2 separate regions of the Homo sapiens genome follow, and region 1 is linked to region 2. Evidence: fine-mapped expression QTL. A gene starts in region 2. The other region holds a variant in brackets. All regions are shown on one strand. Distances are from middle to middle.

Region 1 (12,699 bases), 31 kb after region 2:
GTTAAACTTGCCTTTCCAATTAATAGCAATTCATCTTTAACATATCTTGCTAACCTACCACCACATTTAATAACAGACTTAGTCCTTTGCTTGGAGGTATCTTAATTAACTTGACTAAGGAAGAGTATTTTTAAATACACAACAGAATACTGAAGGAAAATGACACTCTCTTTGAATTGAAATCAAAATAGTACATTACAGAAAAAGAGATGCCGATGGAACCCTGTCTAGCATACATCTTTTGTTCAGGCAGTTAAGCTCAAAGGTGATGTGCAAAACAGGTTTTTGGACCAATCTCTGACTCTTCCACCTTCTTCCAACAATGAGCTCGAATGGATTCCACATTTCTTTTGCTCCAGTTCTACATACAGTCAACAATCAACAAAACGACTTACAACATGTAAGTGGCAGAGCAAATCCAAGTGTTGTTTGCTTGCCTTTTCTATCAGCCTTGTTTATTCCTACTTGTCTGAAATAGCTGCCAATTGGATCACGGGCACATCATCACGAGAGTAATCACTAGTAGTGCTACTTGCTATTATTCATTTTAGTGTTGCTAGTATTGATGAGCACATCTTGGGTTATCTGCAGAGTTGACCATCCACACCAGTGCTCACCTTCACTTCTTCTTCGTACTGGAATCTCCGTTTGCTCACAATGATATCTTCAATACCCCGCCTATCACCAAACTTCTTCTCAAAGATGGTATAATTTTTAAAGAGTTCTTGGGCATCTTGTTTTGAAATTCTGTCCAGGGCATACTTGTAAATCACTCGTACCCTTTCAAACTAAATGCAGACAGGATGATTACCTTCTATAACACAATATTCTCATGCCAGTCACAACTAGGAGAGTAAATATAACAAAATATTACTTATAAGTTAGATTTTGAGGCCTCATAATATCCAGAGTAAGATGCTTTTCTCCCTCTTGTTGAAGGTTATCTCTGTCAGGATGGACCGGTACTCTGCTTTGAGCTCCATATTTAATACTGTCTACCTAACACTGCCAACTGGATGTCTACTGCACATCTCAAACAGGTCCAAAACTGAGCTTCTGTTTCCTCCCCACTCAAACTGGGACTCTCCCCATCTTCCCAATTTTAGTAGGCAAGGCCTAACCTACAGTCACTTGCTCAAGCCAAAACCTTCAGGTGATCCTCAATTCCTCTTTTTTCCTCATACTCCATATTCACTCTTGCAACATGCCCTACCATTTCAATCTCTTCCACACAGCCATTTGCTTCTCCCCAGCCCCCAGCCATCAAACTCCACTGTTCACCTGGCCCACTTCAAAAGTCTCCCCACTGGTCTCCCCTGGTTCCACTTTTGCCATCTACCCTCATACATTCTCCATGAATTAGCCAGAGGCTCTCCTTAAAATATAAATCATATCCAATCACTGTCCCGCTTAAAACCTTTCAATGCTTCCCACTGGCCCGAACAGAATCTGAACTCCCTAGCATGGTCCGTGCAAGACCTTATATAGGTTGAGTATCTCTTGTCTGAAGCATTTGGTATCAGAAGTGTTTTGGATTTGGGATGTTTCCCCAGTTTGGGAATATTTGCATTATACTTACTGGTTCAGCATCCCTAATCCAAAAACCCGAAGTCTGAAATGTTCCAATGAACATTTCCTTCGAGTGTCATGTCAGCACTCAACAAGTTTCACATTTTGAGTTTTGGATTTTCAGACTGGGAATGCTCAAACCTGTATTTGGATGGATCTCAATTCTGTATTATTTGAACTCCCTTTTTTTTTAAGAAATGGGGTCCTGCTCTGTCACCCAGGCTAGAGTGCAATGGCACGAACATAGCTCATTGTAGTCTCAAACTCCTAGGCTCAAGTGATACTCCTGCCTCAGCTTCCCAAGTAGCTGGGACTGTAGGTGTGCACCACTATGCCCACTCAATTTTTTTTTTTAGAGACAGGGTCTCACTATGTTGCCCAGGCTGGTCTCAAACTCCTGGCCTCAAGTGATCCTTCTGCCTCATCTTCTCAATATTTGAGCTATTTTCATAGGTACAAGGGAAAAAAAGAACTCTCTTATTTGTAGGGCAATCTCTGTTTCCATTCTAAATGTTTTCTGTTCTAGGGCTTTAAGCTTTTTGTTTCCCATATTTATTATCGGTTAAGTCCTTTACTTAGGATGCCAAAAGACTAGTTCTCAGTTTACGGGCATTCAGACTAAAAGGCTTAATTTTCAAACAAAGCACAATAAAATTAAGACAGTTATAATACAATCTATAATCAGCTCCCATCTGTAGCTTAGTCACATATATATGCTGTTCTCTGTGAGAAGCTGTGTTTTTGTATTTTGAAAACATCTTTCCAGGGATATGTCAGTAAGAAAAAATGGAAATGAACTCACCATGCACAAAATGTAATCTTTGCTAAGCTGTTTTACAGTATAATGAAGTTAGGTATACTTACCTCTTTCTGATTTTCTTCAAACTTGGCAAAGGCAACATAAAGGTGCTCATCCATATGTTCATCTCCAAAGAATTCCACAGCTCTCTCATACACTTTCCGTGCATGGGCAAAATAAGCATGTTTTTCTTCAAAGCGGGCATACTTGATCCAGTTCTTAACATCAGGGTGCACGAGGACAAGTGCAAGGGAATTAAGGAAATCCCAGGCAAAACAGCATGGCTTAAAAAAATAGTAAGTAAGTAAACACCAAAACCATACCAAAGCCTGGAAACTCCAAAAATTCAAACTACAACTCTAGGGGAACAAAACACATACAAAAGTGTAGAATTAAACAGTGGCTTCTGTGAGAGCAGGGCCACGCCTGTTCATCTCTATTTTCCTCCAGTGCTTAGTTAAGATTTTAGTGGTGGGTATAAACTCGAGTTGGAAGCAAAGAAAAATCTCAACCCAGGTTACCAACCATGTGATCTTGGATAAGTCACTGAACTTAGACGTCTAAGTCTCAGCTGTTTCATTTGTAAACAGGGAAAAATAATGCCAGCCTCACTGGATTACTGCCAGCTTTAAATGAGAAAATGTATGTAAAGCCCTTAGCACAGTTTCTAGCCAAAAGAACATGGCACCGTAAGCGGTCAATAATGGTCTGGTCATTAAATAGCACCAATTATATTAAAATATGAATACTTGAACTAATAATTAAGAAAAAAACATGCTATAAAAAGAAAACTGTTAACTAGAGTCAAAGCAGAAAGTTTTGAATTGTCATTTTAATCTATCTTCCTTGAATAAATCATTAATTTCCAAAGTAGTAATATATTCCAATATGGCAAAGAAGAGCATCAGTTCTGAAGCTGCTCTACTAGGTTCACATTCTATTTCCATCAGCACCTGTGAGAACCCAGTCAAGCTACTTAATCTCTCATGCCTCAGCTCCCTCATCTGTAGGACAGAGAAGTTCCTACACTGCAAGGATGTTATGAGGATTAAACAACAATATCTGTAAAGTACTTAGAATACTGCCTGGCACGTAGCAAGTGCTATAAAAGCTTTCGTCAAACTAATAATATTAAAATTAGTAGACATAATTAAGATCTTAACATTGTCACCTCAACAGAGAAGAGTAAAAAAATAAAAAGATCTTAATACTGCATAATAAAGTTGACTCTCATTATTTCTGGTAGTTATGTTCTATTTAGTCAATGCGAACACTTAATTATTGAGTACTGAACCACTGCTCCTAGGAGAAACGTGTATATATACAATCTCACATTCATCATCATCTTAAATCCTAAAAAGAACTCATCCTGGCAGATTCTATCTTCATTATTTTGTAAGAAAAGTGGTTCAGAAATGTTAAGTGACTGGACTGAGGCTGCCCCACTGACAGGGATTCAAACTCCCCGACTGGCCCCAGAGCCACAGCTCCTTGCACTACATGGCACTGGCCCTTCCTGTCTCCAAGCTCTAGGCATGGTTATATGAGGTTAAGACCAGAAGGCAAGCCTCACCTTGTTGGACTTCATGCTCTGTGCATGTCCACAAATGACTGTGAAAGTGCCACAATTACTGATTTTGGGGGTTACAAATAAATTTTAGCAAATACGTGATTTTGCAAACATGGAATCTGCAAATAGTGAGGAATGACTGTACTTCAGTTTCTAAAAGTGCTTTCATGTGTATCATTTAATCTTCGCAACAGCCCAACAAAGGTGTTTTTATTCTTGTTTTTAAGAAGAGGACACCAACTCTCAAAGGAGTTAAATGACTCTCTGGAGCCACACAGCTAGTAAACAGTAAACCTTGGATGAACTCCAGTAAGGTAGTAATGACCAACACAAACCTTAGAAAAACAGGACTGGCAATGGCAGCCAGGACCTTAGTACAGTTAGTCCTCCAGCCATGGGTTCCATATCTGTGGATTCAACCAACCTGAGATAAAGTATTCGTGAGAAAAAAGTGCTTCTGTATTGAACATGTCGTTTTTTTGCTTATTATTCCTTAAAATATACAGAATAACAATTATTTATATAACATTTACATTGCATTAGGTATAAGTAATCTAGAGATTATTTGAATTATATGGGAGGCTATGCATAGGTTACATGCAAATACTACATCATTTTATATGAGGGACTTAAGCATCACCGATTTTGGTATCCCCTTGAGTTCCTGGAAACAATCCCCCAGGAATATCATTTTCCACAAGGAAACATTAGCTTTTAGCATTACAATAAAATAAACCCAAACTCTCACTAGAAAAGACTAGTTACCCAGAATACAAATTTTCATTCTGACCAATCTCTTTCCCTACAAAACATAGGGAAGCTGATAAACTGGCATTCTTGACTTTGAGCCTGACATTAATGACTGTGTGTCCTGATCATGAGACATCTCTACAGGAGCAGCAGCAGCATCCAGGACAATCATGGCACCATACAGATCTCGTCCAAAGGATATATCGCTCATAAATGGTGCGGGCCCGATCCACCTCTTTGTATCTCAGCTCAAAGTTGATGTAGGAGTGCCAGGCTTGCTCCTCAGGCTGCCACTCCATCCAGCGCTCAAACACCTGCCGGGCACCGGCAACGTTTCCCAACATTTCCTCCATGTACGTGTACTTGTACCTGTAACAAAATCACCCGAAAATATCTGCTGTGGTTTAGTTCTTCCATTGTTGAATGGGAAGAAGATTGAAGATTTTACCTTTCTTAAAGGTTAAATCAAACATGTTTTGTCATTTGTATGTAAATCTGAAAAAGGATGAACCATTGGAAAAAAAGATTTTTTTTTCTTAAAAGTTGCCTAGTTCAACAAGAAGCTTATGAATAAAAGATTGCAATCAAAATTTTAGTTTTGATTACATAGCTATAGAACATTACGATTATGACTTAATAGACTATGGGACATAACAGCATTTATGTCTGAAGAAAAAGTAGGATATCAAATTAAACTATCATCATGTAAATAAAATAAATACAGAAGATGTGGAACTTTGCTAGTCTATAAAAGGCTGTTTTGTTAGATCAGAAACTTACCAGAACTGATTAACTCGAGGCAGCGTTGTTATGGCCCGGTCCCAGATATTTCGAGCATGGTTGACTTGGCGATTCTTCATTTCCATTTCTGCGTATTTCAGCCAGAGTGTAATATTTCGGTAGTCTACATCTAAAGCACGCTCGTATATGGATCGAGCCCTTAAGAAGCAAGATTTGCAGGGCATCAAAAATAGAGCATTCAACACATGTAGCAGTTATTTCAAACTATCTGGAATGCACTGATGTTTTATTAGGTGTCTACCATGAGCCAAGTTCTGGGCATAAAAAAATGAAAAGATATAATGCTCTCAAGTACCTTACAAAGTCTTATAAAAAGACATGCATGCAATTATAATGCAATGTGATTTATGTTATAGTCAAGATCTGCACGGGAAACAGAGAGGAAGAAATGAAAATGTTTGGTGGAAAAGGCTAAGTAGTAGGTAATTGTAGAAATGAGAACTTGAGGAACGTTCCGATTTACCAGGAAACTAAGTTTGGTGAGGAGGGGGTGCTCATTCCAGGCAAGGAGAACAGTCAAGCCTCACGATAAGGAGACATGATATATTCAGGGAGTGGCACATACACAGGCACAGTGGGGGAAGGAGGTATGCGGGGAGAATGCAGAAAGCTAGACCACAGGAAGGGCCAGATTGCAATTTTTATTTTTTTTGGCCATTGGTTTTATTTTTTTTGGCCATTGTTTAGCTGAAATTTGTAAAAATCTCAATATATACAAAGCAAATGAAATTGTGCTTCTTTAGCTACAACTGACAAGATCTATCTCTAAAGCCTCTTCTGCCACCCTCCCCAGGACTATTCTACCCCAGTACTCCTGAGGCCCTCAAGGGAACCCTAGGGTTCCATGGAACCAAAGTTGAAAATTTCTACCCGAGGCACAATCTTTTACCTGTGCTTTAACTTTTTCTTCTTTTCTTTTTGGTATCTGTTAATCTATGAATCATTATATACAAAACTACACTCTCAGTAATTTTACCTTTGAATCTCCTTTAGGCTTTCTTCCCATTGTGCGTATTTTATCCAGTTACTAATCACAGTCCTGTTTTTTCTTATATTATCTTCAAAAGTCTGGAAGAAGGCAAAAAGGGTCAAGTCAAAAGACAAATGACTAAAAATGACAGCACCCTTGGTCTATTTTAAGTCTTGTACTAAAATGGTTATTCATTTTGTTCATATTTAAGAGAAATTACATCCTGGAATCCTTGAGGAATAAGAAACCCACTACAGAAGGTTACAGTCAACTAACTGATACTTTAAAATGGTCTATGCTTGTCCCTAATAAAAAATGTTTTTGACTATTACCTTTAAGTCCTCTGGTAATTCTCAGAATTTCATATATAACAGCATTAGTGCTTTAAAACAGTCCCACATTCTAGAGTGAAGAGGTCAAATCAGATCCCAAAGTCTTCTCATGGTCCTTTTGCAGACCTCAATTCCTTTTCCTTTCTTTCTTTCTTTCTTTTTTTTTTTTTGAGACAAAGTCTTGCTCTGTCGCCCAGGCTGGAGTGCAGTGGCACGATCTCGGCTCACTGCAGCCTCTGCCTCCCGAGTTGCTGTGATTCTCATGTCTCAGCCTCCCGAATAGCTGGGATTACAGGCACCTGCCACCACGCCTGGCTAATTTTTGTATTTTAGTAGAGATGGGGTTTCACCATGTTGGCTAGGCTGGTCTCAAACTCCTGACCTCAGGTGATCTGCCCGCCTCGGCCTCCCAAAGTGTTGGGATTACAGGCGCGAGCCACTGTGCCCAGCCAGATCTCAATTCTTAACACAGAAGGTGGTATAGACAGAAGTACACAGTGCAGCCTTACTAAGCATACCCTCCTTCTTGTTGTCAGTTGTTCCATCTGCTAAACTTCCGCTCACTTTGATTCAGCATCAAAAATTATGCAGATTCAATTTCTTTACACTTTAACCAGACAACTCATGGCATATTTTATATAGTTCAGAAAAATGCTGTTATCTGGTAACCAGAAGTACATTATTCATG[C/T]GTCTGGAAACACTTAACCTCATCTTGCCCTACAGAATCCAACCAATGAGGAGCTTTTCAAACTGACCGATACAGTCTTAACAATTAGTGGACTGAAAGATACCACACTGACTGACCTTCCTTTTCCTTAGTTTATAATCATTTAATTCTTCTTCATCTGTGATCTTCTGTTGAGGTGGAGGTGGAAGAAGCTCAAGTTCTCTTTCTTTAGCCTCTCTTAAGAGTTGTTCAGCAGTTATCTGTACCTCAGCCGGGGCTTTGTTTTTCACCTTTTAAGAAAGAAGACATTTCTATTTTTAGTAGTTGCTCTTCACACAAGGCTTAAGAAACAAACATACATTTTTTAGGATATGAACTTTGTTAGTATTATCACAAGATGCCCTTTTTGTATGACATGTTCCCATTCCTCCATGAGACTGAAAAGAAAAAAAAAATACCGTTTTCTCTCTTATTCATAGTATCTACTGCAAAGCCATAGGTAAAAGTCTCAAGAGAAAAAGGTGGCAAAAATAATAGCAAGTTTTCCCTTTTAGATGAGTATAATAATAAACTTTGAGGCCGTCTAGGTAAAATTCTGACCAGAGGTTTTGTTTTATCAAAATGTGTAGCACATCTTATTAACAGCATTACAACCTGCATTTACAGAATTCTTCAACTTATTTAATGCCCCGGTGTATAACTGGGTTTGGTTTTACATGGCACTTCAAGTCAAAGGCAATTTCAGTAAGTTCTCATCATTAGACTGTAAGCTTCTTGAGGTCTTAGAAGCTTACAGTCTAACGTAGCTTAGAGCTGTGCTGTCCAACACAGTAGCTATGAGTCACATGTGGTGAGTACAAATTGAGGTGGACTGTAAGTGTAAAATACACATTGGTTTTGAAGATGAAGTATAAAAAAGAATAAACTACCTCATTACATTTTTTATACCGATTACATGTTGAAATGATAATATTTTGGATACATTAGCTCAAATAAAATATATATTATCAAAATTAATTTCACTTTTTTGCTTTGTTTTTACTTTTTAATGTAGATATGAGAAAATTTAAAATTTCATATGTGGTGTGCATTATATTTCCATTGGACCAGTGATGCCCAATAAAAGTTTATGTAGCTGAATTATAAAAAATGTTACTTAATGCCACATGTGGAGTAATGATGATAATGGTGATAGCTCATATTTAATAAGCACTAAGTGCCAGACACAGTGTTACTTGCTCTATATGCATTACTCCTGCGAGTCAGACAAATAGTTATGTAAAGGTCCAGTTCAAGAGAGTCATCCGGGCTCAAGAAAGACTGGAGGGAGGGTATCTGTAAAGGCTTCAAAGTCTGCCACATATTAAGCACTTGGTAAGTATTAGCTATCAAAGGAAATACCAGATAGTAAGTCTACTGTTTAATTAACTTATGATACTATACTACTCCTACCGTCTACTCTCGCCCTCCGCTGTCAGCTGGGCTAACTCCTATTCAGCCTTCAAGTCTCAGCTTAAAGGTCATTTCCTCAGCAAAATTTACTTTCAGGACCCCTTCATACGACCCCCTTATTCACGCCCATGGCATATTCTACTTTGCCTCTCGGTAACATCTAGCAAGGTCGTCTTTATACAGAAACTCGTGTTTTGAGTACTGCTTGTGGCCAGCGTACGAGCGTAGCTTCCCAGCGCCCAGTGCAGTGCCTGGCTCAGTAAATCTTCACCGAACCACCCCACTCCACTCCCCAGCAAAACCACCCCAGAACGAAGGCCACGCCAACGCGGGTCGTGCTCCGCGATGACAAGAGCCCGCGCCCCACCACCAGCTGCCCTTCCTCTCCATCTCTCAGGGTGAGCCTTCTCCCCGGCGGGAACACTCTCTCCCAACCCGGGCACCCTCAGGGCTGAGGGATGCCCCTTTCCTAGGCCACCTCCTACAAGGCCCCTCGCGATCGCCTACCTTGGCCACTTTGGGAATCCGCTGCTTCCCGGCCGCGGTGGAGGCCGCCATGTCTGCAGCAGTCGACCTCTGGACACCTGTCCCCGGCACGGACGCTAGAAATCGGCTCTGAGAGCTCACCGAAACCACAAAGCTTTCAGAAAACAAACAGGATCTCGGAACCGGAAGCGGAACTTGCAGGACTGACCTTTGACCTCTCGCTTGAGCCGTGACGGAGGCGGCACCGTTTCCATGGTGACCAGGCTGCGCGTCCTCCTTGCGGCAGCGCGTGGAGTGCGGCGTCCTGGAGCTGCGGATGAGGTGGGTAACGCCGTGCTGACTAGCAGCGACGCAAGGACTGCGGTGCAGGGCGTCCAGGGCGCATCCCCAGGTCAGCCTCCGGAACTGGGATGACCAGGCGAGGACGAGTGGCTCTGTCGAGCCGTGGCGCCCTGCAAGGGAGTAAGAACGGAGCTCCAATCTGGATGCTCGAGGGCGGGGGAAGAAGGGAGAGCGAGGAAACTACCATTCCCAGCATGCGACGGGGCGAGCTGCCGCCCTTTTAGGCTGCAATGCCTCGAGCATTGCATTCTAGTAGTCTCTGGGTCCACGCCCCCTCGTTTCTGGTTTCGGGACAGTTGTGCCCAAATAATTCTAAGGTGCCCAAATAATTAACTCTAAGGCTTGGAATTAAAAATAACAGAAGGTACTTTGAAGCCAGATATTAGGAAAAAATATAAATAGAGTAACTGGAAAACAACTCAGTCTTGTGATAAGAAACATGTTTAAATTCTGTGTGTGCCTTAATTACTCTAGTTAAATTTTCTTAGCCTCAATGTCCTCAACTATAAAACAAGGCTAATAACATCTGTTTCACTAGGATTAAAGACAAATGCTCAGTAGATGTTAGCTGTTATAATACTTAACCTGCCCTCAAAAACTGAAAAGCAAAGGTTAAGAGAATTTTTTTTAATAGACATTTTTAGAGAAGTTTTAGGTTCACAACAAAATTAAGTGGAAGACACAGAGATTTCCTCCCTCCACAGCTTCCTGCTATCAATTATTGTACCTCTTCCCTCCTCTAACAGCCTCCAACTCTTAAAAATATCCTCCACCAGAGCAGTACATTTGTTACAATCTTGAACCTACATTGACACATCATTATCACCCAAAGTTCATAGTTTATATTAGGGTTCACTCTTGGTGTACATTCTATGAGGTTGGACAAATGTATAATGACATGACTTGGCAGCTCATTTGTTAGGATAATTTCCACAGTTGCAAAGCTCTTTTGGTGTTTGGGGAAAATATATATTTATGTATGTAGTAATATCACGTCTACCAATGCAGATATTACTTTCAACAAAAGATTTATGCAGATTTCTAGAACTGCAGTCAGTTATAACCAACATCAATGTATTTGCCATAACTCTTTATTAACCATATTATTTAGATATTTTATCTCACTTTTCAAAATTTAAATAGAGAAGATTTTATATCACTTTCATAAAGCCACCTAACAAAATAAATAAATATTAAAAAGATGTTTCTTTGAAGTGATTTTCCTTAAATGTGTTACTGTAAACAATTGATTTACCAAATGAATCATTGGTTTAATCATCTGTTGCCTTTGCTCAAAAGTACAAACATGCTAGAATACTTTGCTTCTGATCACCATCCTTCTCTCTTACATTTCTGTTGTCTGGCAATTCAGTTCATCTCTGTGTGTGTTTTTTTTGTTTGTTTTTTTTTTTTTTTTTTTTTAGGAAAAATGTATTATCCTTCTTACTTTTTGCCATCAATGCTTTTGTAGATATACCTTCATGTTTACCTTCTTATTTCCCAGCATTTAATCTTGTATTCCACTTCTTTCTGATTTTATTCTTCTCAGAATATACCATCTCCTAGTTCTTTCTACAAGATTCTTTGAATTCTTTCAGTCTTTGTATGAAATTGTCTTTATTTTATCTTCATTTTAAAGTGATTGTTTAGGTTTATCAGTCTAGGTTAATGGTTATTTTTTCCTTTTATATTTTTAAAACACTATTCTAGTAGTTAGAAAACTATGGGCCGTAGACTAAATTCAGCCCATTGACTATTTTGTATGGACTGTGAATGAGCTAGGGATATATATATATATATATACACACACACATACATACACATATACACACACACATTTTACATTAAACTTTATATGTAGTTTACATTTTAAACATTTTTTAAAAATTACATGGCACATGAAAATTATACATAAGTCAACTTTCAGTGTATGTAAGTAAAATTTTGTGGGAATACATTCATGCTCATTTGTGCCGATATTGTCTCTGGTTGTTACTGTGCTACAATGGCAGAGTTGACTAGTTGTGTAGACAACATGTGGCTCATAAAGCTTAATGTATTTATTCTCTGGCCTTTTACAGAAGTTTGCTAACCCCCGTGCTACTGGCTTCTAATGTTGCTCATGAGAAATATTCTGTCAGTCTAATTATTTTTTATAGACAGTCTGTCTTTTGTCAGGTTCCTTTAAAGTTTTCTGTTTGTCTTTAGGGTTTTGTAGTTTTACTATATATTTGGAGTTTATTTGTATTTTTTGCTCTGAACTGAAGGTTCATGTCTTTCATCCATGCTAAAAGTAATTAGCCATTATTTTCAAATGTTTCATTTATTCCTTTTGGAATTCCCATAAGACAGATGTTTTTCATTCTGTCTTACATGTGTCTTTACTGAATTCTGTATTTTCTGTTTCTATGTGCTTCTTTCTAGATAATTTGTTCATAAGTATCTTCCAGTTTATTTTCTTTATTCTTCTGTTTTTAACCCATCCTCTTAGTTTAAATTTTAATAACCACGTATTTCATTTTTTAAGTTTCTGTTCTTTTTTAAATAATGACCTGTTCTCTTCTCATGACTTTTGTTTCTCTTTCTATATTTCTTTATTATAAACATACTTAGTTTGTAGTCTGTTTCAGAGTCTATCATCTAAAGTTCTTGGTGACTCCCATAATACACAGATTGTGTGGACTAGAATGCCATACCCACTTTAGTCTAGAATTTGGACTTCTCAGCAGTATTTTTGCTTTATTTTCTACCTAGAGCTTTGTGTAGAGAAAGCTTGTCACTTTCTTGGGCTGGTGAGTTTAATTTTTCTAGCCCCCTCACTTACCGAGGGGCCCATCCAAAGTCCCAGGTAGATGCATGGTTTAATTTTTAATTCTCTGTTTGGAGTGAGGTCCATTCTATCCCCAAAACCTGTGTCAGATCGGCTCACATCATTGCCACCTGGTTGGAGAATTTCCCTCG
Region 2 (17,296 bases):
GGAAGACTTGCAATGGAAGGCAGCAGCCCCTGAGCCTCCTCCCAATCCCATTTCTGTTATCTCCTCCCCTAAACTACGTCTCCAGCTGTGTATTCATTATTTATCTCCATACTTCTAAAAAGATGCTGATACTGCTGCTTATTGGTTTCTTTTTCTTTTCTTTCTTTCTTTTTTTTTTTTTTGGAGACAGAGTCTCACTCTGTCCCCCAGGCTGGAGTGCAGCGGCACGATCTCAGCTAACTGCAAACCACCTCCCAGGTTCAAGCAATTCTCCTGCCTCAGCCTCCTGAGTAGCTGGGATTACAGGCATGTGCCACCACACCCGGCTAATTTTTATATTTTTAGTAGAGAAGGGGTTTCACCATGTTGGCCAGGCTAGTCTTGAACTCCTGACCTGAAGTAATTCACCCACCTCTGCCTCCCAAAGTGCTGGGATTACAGGCGTGAGCTACCATGCCCGGCCTCTTTTTCAATATTAGACATTAATAATTGATTCCATATCATGGAAGGTGAGGATTGAACCTTCTTGTATGGTGGTCCTCTCCTTAGGGTGACCATGTAGCAGCCTGGTCATATGTCAATGCCTGTGGGGCTTTTCTCCTGGGTCAGGTGGTTTCCCCACAAGAAAATTCTCCAGTATCCTACGGGCGCCGGGTGCAAAGTGGGGTTAAATTTTGTTGCCAGCGTTCTAGGAGCTAAGCAGGCAAGGAGCCTGTGGGTTTTCAGCTTTCCGTCTGCCAGCTTTCACCTCCTCCCATTTCCAATGCAGTGTCTCAACGTCACTTTTCGCTGCCTGTGCTCTGACGGCTCAGGGACATGGCTTCTGGGTCTCTCCAGGAGTGAGGCGCTCATCTTCTCCCTTCACTCACACCTGCCAGAGCTCATTCCTGAGCCCGCTCAGACGCTGCATAGGGAATCGATTGCCTTGCTTCCTGCTGGCTTTTCCGCCTGACATTGGTTAACATCTAGCTTTCTCCTGTCTGCTGAGTTTTCAAGCCCGCAAAATTTTGTTACCAGTTCCCATTGGCTGCTGTCTCCTCTTCCATTCTTTTTGTTCCTATGGATGTATGCCCTTTTAAAAATTCCTTTTTAAATTTTCTTTAATTCTCATTTTAGTGAGGTATTGGTAGGGGAAAGATAGGTAATGCAGCCTGCCTTGTTTAATTGAAACCTGTAGTTTTAATAAGAAAAAAAATAAATAATAAAATAATAAAGAAAGAAACCTGTAGTTTTACATTTGAATGGTGAATGAACTTATACATCCTAGTTAGCAAAACTGAAAATAGATTATTACAATGATAGGCCAGAGTCAATGCATCTATCTTATCCAGTTATTATTTTATATAAAAAATTTCTTATATGAAGTCATCCAAACATCCAAGCTGTTTAATTGTAAAGTATGCTGCCTAGGATATATCAAAATATATATTTACTGTGCACTTTGTCCTTTCCATATAATCTGAAAGAAAAGAAACAGAGCAACAACAGATGAACCATCAAGCTGTTTGCTTGTTTTCAATGTGGAATTTTGCAATGATGGATGTGAATCTGGGTCAGCACTGTTTACAGAGAGCACATGGTGTTTTGTTTCAATGAGCAGGAAAATGTTTGCCATTAAATGTGGTAAAAGCTTGTAGTTTTTTCCAACTAAGCAGTAAAAGAAATTACTCTGTGTAGAATGATAAATAAAGAGTTCTATGAGTCATCTTTAATGTAGGGGAAAATGTGCAGCCGGGATAGAAACAGTGTTTTACTGCCGGCTAAAAATAAAATCAAATGCACTGAAACAGAAGTCAATAACAGCATGTCCTAGAAGCCCAAGTAACTGTGGGGTTTAACGTAGTTCATGCTTTTCAAATATACTTCTTAAAATGATGGTGACAAAAATGGAAAGACTATGCTGATCCTTCCTTCTTTCCTTCCTTCCTTCCTTCTGTCCCCTCCCCTCCCCTCCCACCATTATTTATCTCCATACTTCTAAAAATATGCTGATACTGCTGCTTATTGGTTTCTTTTCCTTTTTCTTTTCTTTTTTCTTTTTTTGAGACGGTGTCTCACTGTGTTGCCCAGGCTAGAGTGCAGTGGCACAATCTCAGCTTTCCTTCTCCCTTTCTCCCCTCCCCTCTCTTCCCTTCCCTTCCTTTCTTTTTTAAAAACACCATGCTGGAGTGCAGTGGTGCAATCATGGCTCACTGGAGCCTCAAACTCCTGGGTTCAAGGGATCCCCCTGGCCTTACCCTCCTAAGTAGCTGGGACTACAGACACATACCACCATGCCTGGCTATTTCTTCTTCTTTTCCTTCTCCTTCTCCTTCTTCTTCTTCTTCCTTTTTTTTTTTTTTTTTTTTGTTTTTGTTTTTTTGTAAAGATGGGGTCTCGCTTTGTTGCCCAGGCTGGTCTCCAACTCCTCAAGCAGTCCTCCCACCATAGCCTCCCAAAGTGCTGGTGATTCTTCTGTTTAAAGTCAGATTTATTAAGGTATAAGTTTGATAAAGTAAAATTGACTCATATTAGTACACATTTGATGTATTTTGACAGACTCATTTGGTCATGTAGCCACCACCATGATCAGTCCCAGCCTGGGCAAACATTGGTCTGTTTTCTTCTGTTCCTATAATTCTGCCCTTTCAGAATGTCATATAAATGGCTGGGCACATTCACTCATGCCTGTAATCCCAGCATTTTGGAAGACTGAGGTGGATGGATCACCTGAGGCCAGGAGTTTGAGACCAGCCTAGGCAATATGTCAAAACCCCATCTCTACTAAAAATATAAAAATTAGCCAGGTGTGGTGGTACACACCTATAGCCCCAGCTACTCGGGAGGCTGAGGCAGGAGAATCGCTTGAACCTGGGAGGTGGAGGTTGCAGTGAGCCGAGATGGTGCCACTTCACTCCAGCCTGGGCAACAGAGTGAGACCCTGTCTCAAAAAAAAAAAAAAAAAAAAAAAAAGAATGTCCATGTAAATGGAATCACAGGGTACACAGACTTTTGATTCCGGCTTAAATATTCATACAGATGTTTTGATAAAAACGTAACTTTTCGTTTCCCTGGGGTAAATGCCCAGGAATGCAATTGCTGGGTTAAGTGATAGTTGCATGTTTGCATGTTCAATTTGTAAAGAAACTACCAAACTGTTTTCCAGAGGGGCTGCACCATTTTATATTCCCATCAGCTATGTATGAGTGATTCTGTTTTGAAGTTTTTAGTACATTTCAGTGTTAAACTGCTGAAATTGTCAGATTCACTAGGTTTAAAACACATGCACTGTTAAAAATGTTTTATTTCTGAAAGTGTTATAATTATATTTCTAGAAATGTTATAATTAGACTCCAGCATAAATTAAGTCGCTGATACAAGGGGGAAAAAAACTCATGCTGGCCTTATTCTTCTCCCCCAGAAACTTTAAACACCAGAAAACAATGGAGTAATGATGTTTACAAAATCTTGGAGGAGAGAACATGGGATCCAGGAATATCCAGCCAATATTCCACTTGAGCATCCTAAGAGACAAGGGCGCTCTGTGAATAGAGCACCAGCACCATGAGCCCGAGGAAAAACAAAGCACAGCAAAGTCAAACAAACAAAAGCTCAGCAGAGAAACCCAGCCAACCCATACATGCATCAGAATGAAGAATGGAAAGGGAAAAGCTGTAAGAAGAAACAGGAATGACAATTACATCCACTCAATCATAGACTTAAAACCAAACAACTAGGTGATATATAGTTGAAAAACTGATGTGGCTTTATAGAGAATGGTGGCACACGCCTATAGTCCCAGCTACTCAGGAGCTGAGGCACGAGAATCGCTTGAACTTGGGAGGTGGAGGTTGCAGTGAGCTGAGATGGTGCCACTTCACTACAGCCTGGGCAACAGAGAGAGACCCTCTCTCAAAAAAAAAAAAAAAAAGAAAGAAAGAAAAAGAAAGAAAGAAAAAGACCAGTCACGGTGGCTCACGCCTGTAATCCCAGCACTCCGGGAGGCCAAGGCTGGTGGATCACAAGGTCAGGAGTTCAAGACCAGCTTGGCCAAGATGGTGAAACCCCGTCTCTACTAAAAATGCAAAAAAAGTAGCCAGGCATAGTGGCGGGCACCTGTAATCCCAGCTACTAAGGAGGCTGAGGCAGAGAATCGCTTGAACTCAGGAGGCGGAGGTTGCAGTGAGCTGGGATCACACCACTGCACTCCAGCCTGGGCGACAGAGCAAGACTCTGTCTCAAAAAAAAAAAAAGGCCTCGTGTGGTGGTGCACACCTATAGTTCCAGCTACTCAGGAGGCGGAGGCAGGAGAATCCCTTGAACCCAGGAGGCAGAGGTTCCACTGAGCTGAGATCTTGCCAGCGCTCCAGCCTGGGAGACAGAGCGAGACCCTGTCTCAAAAAAGCAAAAAAACAAAAAACAAAACAACACAAAAAAAGAGTAAATAGTGCCCTAAATTGAAATTTCTATTAAAAAATCTGATTTTGACCATTAATTATCCTCATTAGGAGATTGAAATTACATTTAATACATATATAAGATAATACTATACATATCTTAAACTTTACAGGAAACTTTTAGGAGCTTTTATTTTGTGCTGCTCAGCAATCTCTTTATTTTCATATTTATTTATTTATTTATTCTTTGTATTATTTTTTAATTTTTTGAGACAGAGTCTTGCTCTGTCACCCAGGCTAGAGTGCAGTGGTACAGTCTCGGCTCACTGCAACCTCTGCCTCCCGGGTTCAAGCGATTCTCCTGCCTCAGCCTGACAAGTAGCTGGGATTACAGGCGCCCGCCACCATGCCTGGCTAAATTTTTTTTGTATTTTTAGTAGAGATGGGATTTCACCATGTTGGCCAGGCTGGTCTCAAACTCCTGACCTTATGATCCACCCGCCTCGGCCTCCCAAAGCATTGGGATTACAGGTGTGAGCCACCGCGCCCAGCCTATTTATTTATTTATTTATTTATTGACATGGAGTCTCCCTCTGTCGCCCAGGCTGGAGTGCAGTGGTGCAATCTCAGCAAACTGCAACCTCTGCCTCCTGGGTTCAAGCGATTCTTCTGCCTCAGCCTTCCGAGTAGCTGAGATTACAGGTGCCCACCACCACGCCCGGCTAATTTTTGTATTTTTAGTAGAGATGGGGTTTCACCGTGTTGGCCAGGCTGGTCTCAAACTCCTGAACTCAGGTGAACCACCTGCCTCGGCCTCCCAAAGTGCTGGGATTACAGGCGTGACTCACCGCGCCTGGCACTCTTTCATTTTCATTTGATTTGTTTTTCTTCTGTTAAATTCAAGAAAAAAGTCAAGTACAGTAATACCTTATACTTCATAATCTATTAACATATATAATTAGAATCCCTTTTAAGTAAAAGTCTCTTTCTCACTCCCCTTAATCTACATAGAGAGATGACTGAAATTATCTGAGAGTTAACATGGTTTATTCCCAGGTGGCAAAATTTTCAATGATTTGTTGCTTTATTCTTTGTACATTTCCACAAGTCTTTGATTTCTTAATAATGTGCATATATCCTTTTTATTAAAAAGTCTTTAAGAATGTAAATAGCCCTAAAAGGTATTTTTAAAACCCATAAAACAAGTGTGTCAACATGTAGACTTTTCTGGTTGAAGCAAGACAATAAGAGGAAAGGGAGGCGGCTTCCAAAGCCCCACCCATCTCCTCTAAGCTGCTCATCGGGGACTATGAGCAAACATCACCCCTCCAGAGCCATTTGTGCTAAGGTCTATGATTGAGGGCTGTGCCTCTCCTAACTCTACATCTCCAGATTCTGATCCTTCAAAATGCAAGATACTTAATTTCATTATTTTTCTTAACAAACACTTATATGGCACTTAAAATGTGGCAAGCACTGTTATAACTGCTTTACAAATATTAACTCATGTAATCTTCATAATAATCCAATGAAGTAGGTGCTATGATTATGCACCTTTTACAGAAACTGAGGCAAAGAGAGGTGAAATACCTTTGTTGAGAATGTGAATACCCTCTTTGTAAACTACCAAGGATGACATTATCTTCTGGGTAACCTGTGTGCCACTTTTTCACTCAGCTATTTAATCAATATTTGCTAGGCACTTACTGGCCACCCTTCGAGATGCTAATTCATAGGAGGCAATCAGCAATGGAAACTGATAACAGTTTAAAAATAAGTAGACAAACAGGAGAGAAGGGAGAACCAGCTGGTGAATATCCAGGATATTCTCTGTACTGCCCTGCACGTTCCCCTGACCCCATGTGTTGGAATGGCCACGTAGCTATAGGATATTTCTGATCTGTGCCTCAAAATCGGAATAATAATTCGTATCGGTGCTTGCAAACTGCTGGCCTACAGCATCCAGTTTCTGCAGGGTTCCAATGCTACCTTTGTGTTAAACCCACAGTGTTTTTTTCTAAAAATCAAAATCATGTTTATTCCACCATTACCTAGATACAAACATAAAGTAGCTATAAACTTCTAATGTTTATAATACCAATGAATCAGAGCCAAAAATATTATAAAAACCTTCACTACTTCATAAGGAACAAAATTCAAATCAACATTAGTTCATGTCACACACAAAAAATTATGAAACACTTTGAAATGGCCAGAAAAAGATTACTGTTTAGTACACGTTTCCAGGTTTTCTCTGCTTTTTATTGTCTTTGACAATACAAAATTTTACAAATTTGTAAGCTGAGGAAAATTGATAGTAATGAAAATTTTTCTTGTCCATAAAATACAAATGCATAGTGTTATACAGTGCCCAGGAGAGACAGTGATTACAGCTCTGTGGATATTGACCAGTTTAACACTCATGTGTAAATACATTTCAGCATTCCTGCTTGCTTTATGTATTTTATCTCTCTTTATCTTATCTTTTTGAGACAGGGTCTTGGTGTGTCACCCAGGCTGGAGTGCAGTGGTGCAATCATGTCTCAGAGCAACCTCTACCTCCCGGGCTCAAATGATCCTCCCACCTCAGCCTCCCAAGTAGCTGGGATTACAGGTGTGAGCCACTGTGTCTGGTCTGAATAAAGGAATTTTTAACTTTTAATTTTAACTACTTTAAATTTAAAAACTGATGTTTGGTTCAGCGATTTGAAAACAGTATATTTGGAACCGCTTGGATATGAGAATCTGCTTTTTAACCATACATTGATGAAATCTAAATAGAGAACAAGCATTTCCGATGACAGCTGCTCTCTCAGATTGAAATGCACTGCAAATGTAAAATACACACCGGATTTCAAAGTCTTTGCAAAAAAGAATGTAACATATCACATTCCTTTTTTTATTGATTGATTACATGTTGAGTATTGATTGGTTACATGTTGAAATGATATTTCGGGTATAATAAAGTGGGGTCAGGGAAAAATATTTTTCCCAAATAGGAAAAATAAATGGGTAAAATAAAGCGTACTATCAAAATCAATTTTACATTTCGTTTTGCTTTTATTTATTTATTATTTATTTTTGAGACCAAGTCTAGCTCTGTCGCCCAGGCTGGAGTGCAGTGGCGAGATCTCGGCTCACTGCAACCTCCGCCTCCTGGGTTCAAGCGATTCTCCTGCCTCAGCCTCCAAGTAGCTGGGATTAGAGGCGCGTGCCACCACGCCCAGCTAATTTTTATTTCTTTCCTTTTTTTTTTTTTTTTAGTAGAGAGGGGGTTTCGCCATGTTGGCCAGGTTGGTCTCGAACTGCTGAACTCAAGTGATCTGCCCGCCTTGGCCTCCCAGTGTTGGGATTACAGGCGTGAGCCACCGCGCCCGGCCTTCTTTTTGTTTTTAAACGTGGTATTGACATTTTAAGATGACATCTGCAACTCGCAACACTGGGACAAGGGATTCTGGGTCATAAATTCTCCCATTCCTCATTTACTCTGCAGCACCGGGTGGCTGCGAACTCCGCTCTTCTGCTTGGGTTTCCGCATCACCAGCAGCTTCTTTCCTTCCCAGGTGTCGCCGCCTGCTTTCTGCAGCCGCTGCCTGGGAGGGGTTCCGAGGTTCTGGGCAGCCACAGCCCCGGAGGCCTTACAGGAGCGACCTGGCAATTCCCGCCGCCGGCCGCCAGAGGAAGCTGCTTTGCTGCTGTCGTTGCCCAGCAACTCGTAGCCCGGAAGCAGTACCCCGTCTCGCTCGGTTCCGCGGCGGCCACGCTCCGGGAGACTTCCGGCAGGGCGGGCGCGGGGTCTTGGCGAACGGTCTTCGGAAGCGGCGGCGGCGCGATGACCACGCTACGGGCCTTTACCTGCGACGACCTGTTCCGCTTCAACAACATGTGAGTGACACGCGCCTAGGGCCAGCCGCTCTTGGCCGGGCCTCGCTTCCCGGCCCCGCCAGCTCCGGCCCCAGCCGCGCCTTCCCGGCCGGACCCCAAGCCCGGACGGGGACCCGCGAGAACCACCCCCCGCCGGCCAACGTGGGCGCCTCCCTGGGGCCACAGGGTCCAGGGAGAGGTGGGCCTGGAGTCGACGCACGCCGGCCTTGGCGACCTTGGCCGAGGTGCTCAAACTTTGTCTCTGGACCCTGCGAGCTGGCAGGTTCTGGGGCAGCGCTCGGGCCTCCGCTCGTGGTCGCTGTCAGGAGGCGCTGGGGTGATGGGGCGAGCTGGAGACGCGGCCTGGAGCCCACGACCTGGGCTTCTCGCCCTGCCCTACTGCTTGCTGGTTCGTGGCCGGGCCGCGCCTCTTCTGGGCAGAGGGCACCGCCGACGGCCAGGCCGCAGAGGGGGCTTGCGAGGATCGGAAGCTGGTCAGCAGCTGTTGGGATGTGTACATCGTGAAGCCCACCTGGTGGCCGTGGTTAAATTGTATCCAAATGAAATGACACTGATCACTGCGTCCCCTGCAGCAGATGCTGTCTCAGTCATGGTTAGTGTTTGCAAGTTTAGTTACTGTAGCTGCGCACCCCGGTGTACACACCTTTCCTCTGTGAGGAGTCACGGCAGATCTTAGGGGAGGCTCGCTGTGCCCAGAGCCCTGGATGCAGTTTCTTTGGATTCGAGTTAAGGCCAGACCTCTGATTTGCAGGTACCAATTTTTTTTTTTTAAGAAAACATTTTATTATGAAGATTCCCACACATTTAGAAAAGTTGGAGGAATTTCACCATGTGCTTTTATAGACACTTTTCCTGGATTCTGCAGTTAACATTTTGCTACGCTGGTATCTCTCCTTCCTTCCCATCTATCAGTCCTGGATCCACTTTAAAAAAACAACAGGGCGGTATGTGAAAACTAAGGACAAAGTGGTTCCGATTCAAGTGTCAGGAAGATGGAAAGAACTATGGGATAAGATGGCTGGGAACATTTCAAAGAGGGGGTGAGCCTTGAAGATGGATAACACATTGGTAAGTGAGGAAGACGGAAGTTCCGGAGAAGGAGCGGGGCATGAAAATGGGGAAACTTGAAGTGCGGTCAGACAACTGGGATCAGTGCGAATCTAGTGGCTGGTTTCTGCCACTGAGCAGTCAGGAAGAAATGGGTGAAACAGGAGGGGTTTAGACTTGATCCTGTGGAAAGAATTTTCTGTTGGGCCAGTCTGGTAGCTACGGTGACTTGTGTTGAACTCACTGTTCCCTGCATTGTTCTGAGTGCCCACGTAATAATCCAGTTAATCCTCACGATTCTTTGAGGTGCTGTCACCCCCATTTTGTGTATGAGTAAACCAAGGCATGGCAAGCACAAGTGAATTGGCCCAGGTGAGAATGAGTAAAGCGAGGAACTTCATCCAAGGATATTGGCTCTGGAGCAGTGGTTCTGAAAGACTTGGTGCCTGTGGTCAGGGGACCATGTTAGAAACGCACATTCCGTTTGCGATCCACTGCTCTGGAGTGGGTCTTAACCCACCTGGAGCCTCTGGAGAGGCTCACCCTCTCTTTAAAGTGTTCCCAGCCATCTCATCCCATAGTCCTTTCTATCCTCCTGACCCTTGAATCGGAACCACTTGGTTTTTCGTTTTCACTTACTGCCCTGTTGTTTTTAAAAGTGGATCTAGGATTGATAGGTGGGCAGAGAGAAATGATGAAGCCAGTGTAGCAAAGTGTTCACTGTAGAATCCAGGTGATGGATTCAAATTCTTAACCACTGAGCTCTGTGGGCTGTCATGTGATGACAGCAGGTAAACTGGGCAGGTAAGCCATTCAGGAGGCCTTGGCAGTGGCCCAGAGACGATGACTTGACAGAGGCTTCAGTTTGGGAGGTGCAGCATGGGAGGTGACAGGGTGCCTTGAAGCTTCAAGAAAAGGCAGAGCCTCATGGAGAATCAGTTTTAACTGAAGATCTAGGAAAGGACAACAGTTTTACATGGAAATGAATAGAAAGAAAATACACAGGAACACTTGCAAGAAAATATTAGATTTCAGAGAATCATGTGGCCTCTTCAGAAGGTGCCAGTAGGGGAACTCCACTTATTCCCCATTTTCTTTTATTTTTTGAGACAGGGTCTCGCTCTGTTGCCCAGACAGGAGTGCAGTGGCACAATCCTAGGTCGCTTTAGTCTCAAGCTCCCAGGCCCAGGCAATCCTCCTGCCTCAGCCTCCCGAGTAGTTGGGACTACAGGCACGTGCTGCCACACCCCACTAATTTTTAAATTTTTTTGTGGAGACAGGGTCTTGTTTTGTTACCCGGGCTGGTCTGGAACTCCCAGGCTCAAGTGATTCTCCCACCTAATCCTTCCAAAGTGCTGGAATTACAAGTGTGAGCCACCACACCTGGTTCCCATTTTTTTGTATTTACTTGCCTCTTTGATTAGGGCATTTTGGTAGAAAACTCTGAGAATGACTCAGATTAGATGATGCAGTTGGAATTGAAATAATCCATGGATGTAGAACACTGCAATTAATTTAACACATATTTTATTCTTGGAAAAATATTTGAGTGCCTACTGTGTGCCAGTTCTAGAGACACAGCAGTGAACAAGACATAAACAAAAAGGTGTCTTTATAGAATGTAGATTTTCCCCTCTAAACACCTTAATGTATCATAAAGTAGCTGTGACTTCATAGAACACCTGAAACAATTTTGGGGACCCCCTCAAATCCTGGCCCACACCTTGGGAATCACAGTGCGGGGAGTCATGTGGAACTTAGTGTTCAGTTACAAAGGAAAATAGAAGCAGGGAAGGAAAGCTGGAAGTGAGTGGGGATTCAGCTTTAGTTTGGGGGTTCAGGGAGACTGCCCTTGAAGAAAGACCTGGGGAAGTTAGGAATGAGTTACATGAACACTGGGGGCCAGGGGAGCTTCCAGATAGAGGGAACAGTAAGTGAAGACACCCCTGTTTCAAATAGGAGGCAGGCCGCATGGCTGGTACAGAGTGAGCATGGGAGGGTAAGGGGATAACAGCAGAGAGTTAGAAGGGCAGGGCCTGGAGAGGCCATCATAAGACCTGAACTTCTCTGCCAAGTGCACCAAGAAACCCAGGTGGAGGGGCCAGGAAGGCATCTGGGCATGGGCGTCTCAAGATTAGGTCTGAGCTAAAGATGGAAATTTGGGGGTCAGCACAAGTGTAGAAAAAAAGGCTAAGAGTTTGTAAGATGGCGCCTTAGGGCATCAAGTGTTCAAGTAAAGGAGACCGTGTGGCTCAGTGAGGTGAGAGGAGAACCCCATGGTCTCAGAAGCTGAGTGAAGACAGCATTTCAGGCTGTCCCAGGAGTGGGAAGCTGTTCAAGAGGAGCTGATGGCTCAGTGCACATCATATTTGTACATTTCTTCCAGGAAAGAGAAATTGAAGATGCAGATGCAGGAGGGAAAGAGAATTGCAGGAGGAGGGTCCCGAGTACTGAGGGGGTCTCTCGCCCGCACTCCGTGCCTATTGACAGGAGAGCAAGTAGCATATGGGTGCAGATGCCTGTGTGCGTGGGTTCGGTGGGCGGGGGGGGGGGGGGACTTTGGCAAAGACTTCTTCCTGTTTTCTCTTCTTAGTGATGAAATAGGAAGCCCCTGAGATGGCGGGGCTGGAGGTGAGGGTGCGGGTGGGCAGACAAGAGGAGATAAAGCAGTTCAGTCGTCGAAAGGTGTGGTGGAGTGACTCCCTGCACTGTATTAGAGCAGTGATTCTCAAGGAGTGGGCCAGGGTTTGGGGTCCCCAAGATTGTTTCAGGTGTTGTGTGAGGTTAGAGCTATCTTCATGATGTATTAAGAAGGTTTTTCATCTTTTCCACTGTCATTCCCTCACAAGTAGACAGTGGAGCTTCCCAAGGTGTGATCTTTCAGCAGCAAGCATAACAAATGCTTGAGAATCCCGTTGTCTTTTAAGCAGGACGTTGCAGAATTGTTAAAACAATGCCATTGTTGTCACTGGATTTTGTTTTGTTTTGTTTTCGGAAGTATAGTGATTTTTTTGGTAAAGGTATTTGTGTTAACGTGTAATTGATTTATTATTTTTGAGTGAATATTTAAAATTTTTAAATCTCAGTAGATATTACGCGTATAAACAAAAGTTCTTTGGAGTCTTCAGTAACTTTTTAGCGTAAAGGAGTTCTGAAACCAAACAGTTTAAGAACTGCTGGACTACAGAAATATGATATGACTAGCATTGTTATGGGTCTCAAAGGAGAATTTGACTAGAAATCAGAAGAGAACAGTTGAAAAGTAGCTGGTTTTGAACCTGACAAAATAGTGGCTCCATTAATTGACTAGGGAAGTGAGGGGATGGAGATGGGTTTTCAGAATGCAGATTTGGGAATGGTGTGCTGGGATGTGCTGGTGAGCTGCCCACAGCATCGGAGCCAGGTTGGGAGGCATCCACTAAGAACACGTGATTGAACACATAGGAATGGGGATGGTGGGGACAGGGAGGTGGGAGTGTAGAATAGGAGTGGGGAGCAAAAACCGAGTGGTGGGAGTGACCACATTTAGAGGGTGGAATAAAGGAGCAATTGTCAGGGAAGACCCAGACACAGGCGGGGAGGATCCATGGGGTTGGATGCTGCAGCGGGCGAGTTTGACCTTCTGTCTCTGCGAGATACATCCCTAGTTGGTCTCCAGTTCCATTAGCAATTTATTGCCACTTAGAAAACACAAGATGTAGATTTATTAACTTGAATTTTAAAGAAGCAAGTAGCAGTTAAGTGAAAAAATATGTAAACACCTTAATAGTGGCTGTGACAGCTTATTATGGCTATTAGGTAGATTAAATCATCTGCCTCAGCCCTAAAGTTGGCCTTAAAGTTGTTGATGAAACATGTTTTGTTTTCCTTGTGGCATATTACTGTTAGCTTTAGCAGGCTTATTTCAACTGGTTATTGTAAACGCTGCTTACTAGAGACATTTCTCTTGTTTCTTTCAGTAACTTGGATCCACTTACAGAAACTGTATCCTTTTTTACAAAAAAAAAAAAGTTGAATGAAGATTTACTGAGAATAAAGAAAACAGAAATGAAAGGAAAACAGAGGAGTACTGAAAAGTTTAAAAACTTGTAGGTCAGGAAACATCATAAGCAACACTGAAAGCAATTTTAAAAAGTGAAACTGAGAACAAGAGTTGTCTTAGATCTGCTGACAAACTGTTAATATCATGACTTGGTAGAAATCTGTAACATCATAGCTCCCCTGCCAACCTTGCCCCTCAGGAGTCAGCATGGCTGTATTCACCAGAAAGCACAGTGACTTCAGCAAGGTGGCTGCATAGTCTCCAGTGTGAACAAAGTCTGGAGATAAGCAGTCCCAGGCAGGTGATGCTTCCATGAAGACACCAACAGCCAGGCTCTTTGCAGTTTAAGCACTCTACCCCTCCCAGGGTGGCCGTAACCTTGTTCCAGATGTTGCCACAGCAAACAGCATCACAGCCATGTTTCCGGCAGCAGAAACAGCAGAGGGGGAGGTGAGGGTGTTCTTCCCTTTTAAGAGTACCTTTGGGCCTGTACTCCCAGCACTTTGGGGGGCCAAGGCAGGCAGATCACGAGGTCAGGCGTTCAAGACCAGCCTGGCCAACATGGTGAAACCCCGTCCGTCTCTAGTAAAAATACAAGAACTAGCCAGCCGTGGTGGCTCACTCCGTAATCCCAGCTACTTAGGAGGCTGAGGCAGGAGAATCGCTTGAACCAGGACCCGGGAGGCAGAGGTTGCAGTGAGCCGAGGTTGCAGTGAGCCGAGATCGCGCCACTGCACTCCAGCCTGGGCTACATGTAGAGCGAGACTCCGTCTCAAAAAAAAAAAAAAAAGGAGAGTACCTTTGGGAAATGCCACACAGGCCCGCTCTGTCTCATTGACCAGCACCTGTTTCATGCTTCACCTGTCTACTGAATCCTATCTAGAGTCCAGAAATGTGCCCTGCTTTATAAATTGGGACTTGTTACTAAAGTGAAGGCTTTGAGGTAACAATGAACAGTGTCTATTATTGTCCTAATGGAAAAATGGGGCAAAGATGTGAAGATAGGATACTGTGGTTATGCTGCTGTAACAGATAACCCCACATCTCTAGTGGCTTACAACACAAAGTTCGGATTCTGTGTTATGCTCTGTATCTACTGTAGGTGGGTAGGAGGGTTCTGCTAACCGGTAATTTATCAAAAGAGGGCATATAGGAGCTTAATGAACGTGTTAAGAGTTCAGTCTCATCAGTCAAAAGACATGTAAACTAAAACCAAAATGAGATGCCATATTTTATGTATCAGCCAAGATTTTAAAAAATGATAAACCTCAGTGCTGATGATGGTGAGGTGAGAGGAACATTCTCATAAATTGCTAGTGACAATATAAATTGCTATTATCTTTCCAGAAGGCACTTTGGAAATAGTAATTCCATTTCCTGAAAGCTGAAAATAAGAAGAAATAGAGGCAGTTTGTCAGTGGTTGACAAAATAAGGCCCATAGGCCAAATCTGGCCCACTGCCTGTTTTTGTAAATAAAATGTTATTGGGACACCACGCTGATTAATTTATATTTTTTTCTGTGGCTTTTGCAGTTTGAGTAGTTCAGCAGGGACTGTATGGCCCACAAAGCCTAGGATGTTAACTATTTGGCCTTTTACAGAAAAAGTTTGCTAACCCCTGAGTTATACCATTACAAACATTATTTATTGCAGGAGAGTTACTAAGCATTTGGAATAAGATTCACACACAACAATCAGGAGATGGTTAAGTAAATTAAGCTGTACTGAAGAAGGATTTCAAACATTTTTTTGAGAAACAGGAAATGACCCAGGTGTCCATTGTCAGGATACAGGCTATTTAAGGTGTCTCTTCACATAAAGAAATACTATACAGCAGTAAAAATTAACTTACAGGTGCAGGCAGCAACAGGACTACATATCAGAAACAAAACTGAATGGGAAAAGCAAAAAATCTCTGCAGGTTCATCTGGATTTTTTAAATTACGACTAATGATATCACCACTTTTAAGATTTTTGAAGAATTTTGAATGACAAAAGTTTCACTATATAGGAAGGAAGGATTTTAGGATGCAAATCCGTTTATATGGTGTGCTTCCAGTGACATTTAAAATTTGCAGTGAAAGTCCCATAATCCAGGTGAGCCTATATTTGAAAGTAACCTGTTAGGTCCTAGAGGTCGATGGGAGGGAGGGGTGTCTGGGACTCCTCTGTTAGCCACAGAAGAGATGGTTGTGGTATATGTCAGTGGCTGGCTGGCAGGAAGACTGGCTGTCCTGCCATGTTAAGGGTTGTATTTGAGGGGTATTCAAAATAATGATGGTCCTTCAGAGGAGATTTTGAAGAATTTCGCACGGAACAGGTTTTCCAGGAACTTAAAAAATATATTTATGTGTGATTGATGGTGTCCTCTGATAAATTGCATCAGAAAGTTTATACTAACAAGAAATATATTTTCATCCATTAAAGTACAGAGTAAAAAGAAGAAGAGAAATGTAGGAATGATTACATGTCAGTAAGGATATCCCAAGGTTGAAGAGTGAAGTCATGAGCAAATTATTCAGGCATTTACTGTTAACATAGTTGATTCCTTAAGTCAGCTTTTATCTGCATTACTAGAAATGCAGGATTTGAATCAGTGGAGAGGAAAAACTGGGTAATTAAGTTGGCTCTGGAAGGACTTAGGTTGTAAAGTTATTTTCACAGTCTCATAGCTGAAGTCAAAGTAGGAACTACCCATTAATTTTTCAGTGCAATTATGTAAGCATCAGTGTATTAAGCATCTACTGTGTACCAGGCACCAGGGACAGAGGGAACATGATATTCATAGACTAAGAGGAGGCAGACCGCAAACAAACAATATCAGGTGATAAATGGAGAGACTTAGATATGGTATGGTCAGTAGGGAAGTAGACTGTAGAACTTTGGGGTCCTGATTCTCTGCTTTCTATTAGACAGTGCTATCACCATTCCACACTTGAGGCTATATGTCCAGGCAATTTTGTTAAAAATCAGTGATAACCTAAATATTTCATGTAATGGTATGTATGATTATAGGACTCATACAGAGCTGGGGATAAAGTAACAGTATACTTTTTAAAGGAAACTTTTTTTACAATATCCCTTAATGAAGAACTTTTTACTGTCCATTACTTTTCACACTCCTTAACAGGACTCTAGTATGGGATTCCTTTCTACCTACAATACCTCGCCCACTGGCCAGAGTATTTCATTGTTGCAGAGGCACCTGGTGGAGAATTAATGGGTTATAGTAAGTATAATACCACTAGTATTTTGTGGAGTAGGTAAAGATTTTAATATAGATTTCAACTGATTGCTTTAGACTGCAGAATTGGAATATAATGATGCTTGTAATTTTATTTCCTCTTCAACAATTCAAGAACTTACTGATCTCTGTTTTGGGCACTGTGCTAGGCCCAGGCGATAACGGCAGTGAACCAGACAGACATGGTCTTAGTCTTCTTAAATCTTTCATTCTAAAAAAAAAAAAAATCTTTCATTCTAAGGCCAGGTACAGTGGCTCACGCCTGTAATCCCAACACTTTGGAAGGCCAAGGCAGGCAGATCCTTTGAGGTCAGGAGTTCAAGATCGGCCTGGCCAAATGGTGAAAGCCTGCCTCTACTAAAAATACAAAAAATTAGCTGGGCGTGGTATCGCGTGCCTATAATCCCAGCTACTCAGGAAGCTGAGGCGGGAGAATCACTTGAACCCCGGAGGCAGAACTTGCAGTGGGCTGAGATCATGCCACTGCACTCCAGCCTGGGTGACACAGTGAGACTCTGTCTCAAAAAAAAAAAAAAAATCTTTCATTCTATACTTTTGTTAAATTTCTACATGGTTTATTTAGTACATAATGCAGGCATCATAGCATCCTCATTGAATTAGCATTACTAACAGAACCTTTAGCTCTGAACTATATGTGTACATCCACATGTACCCACATATACCCACACCCATATGAAATGC

Evidence for each region.
Region 1: its variant is fine-mapped to the expression of NAA20 in whole blood (TOPMed, PIP 0.90).

Annotation. Positions count from the first base shown.
Region 1 is chr20:20,042,875-20,055,573 of GRCh38, forward strand. CRNKL1 (crooked neck pre-mRNA splicing factor 1) reads right to left here and starts at 9,592. Exons shown (of 14, transcript NM_001278628.2): 1 at 9,418-9,592; 2 at 7,596-7,748; 3 at 6,466-6,557; 4 at 5,469-5,627; 5 at 4,891-5,057; 6 at 2,434-2,612; 7 at 618-788. The coding sequence starts at 9,468. CFAP61 (cilia and flagella associated protein 61) reads left to right here and starts at 9,658. Exons shown (of 27, transcript NM_015585.4): 1 at 9,658-9,717. RefSeq lists enhancers at 9,447-9,616, 9,627-9,926 and a silencer at 10,017-10,066. The variant C/T (reference allele first, on the strand shown) is at 7,480.
Region 2 is chr20:20,009,189-20,026,484 of GRCh38, forward strand. It overlaps NAA20 (N-alpha-acetyltransferase 20, NatB catalytic subunit), which reads left to right and starts at 8,174. Exons shown (of 6, transcript NM_016100.5): 1 at 8,174-8,261; 2 at 13,268-13,292; 3 at 16,489-16,579. The coding sequence starts at 8,209. RefSeq lists enhancers at 7,681-7,860, 8,475-8,975, 9,437-10,636 and silencers at 8,181-8,250, 8,301-8,420.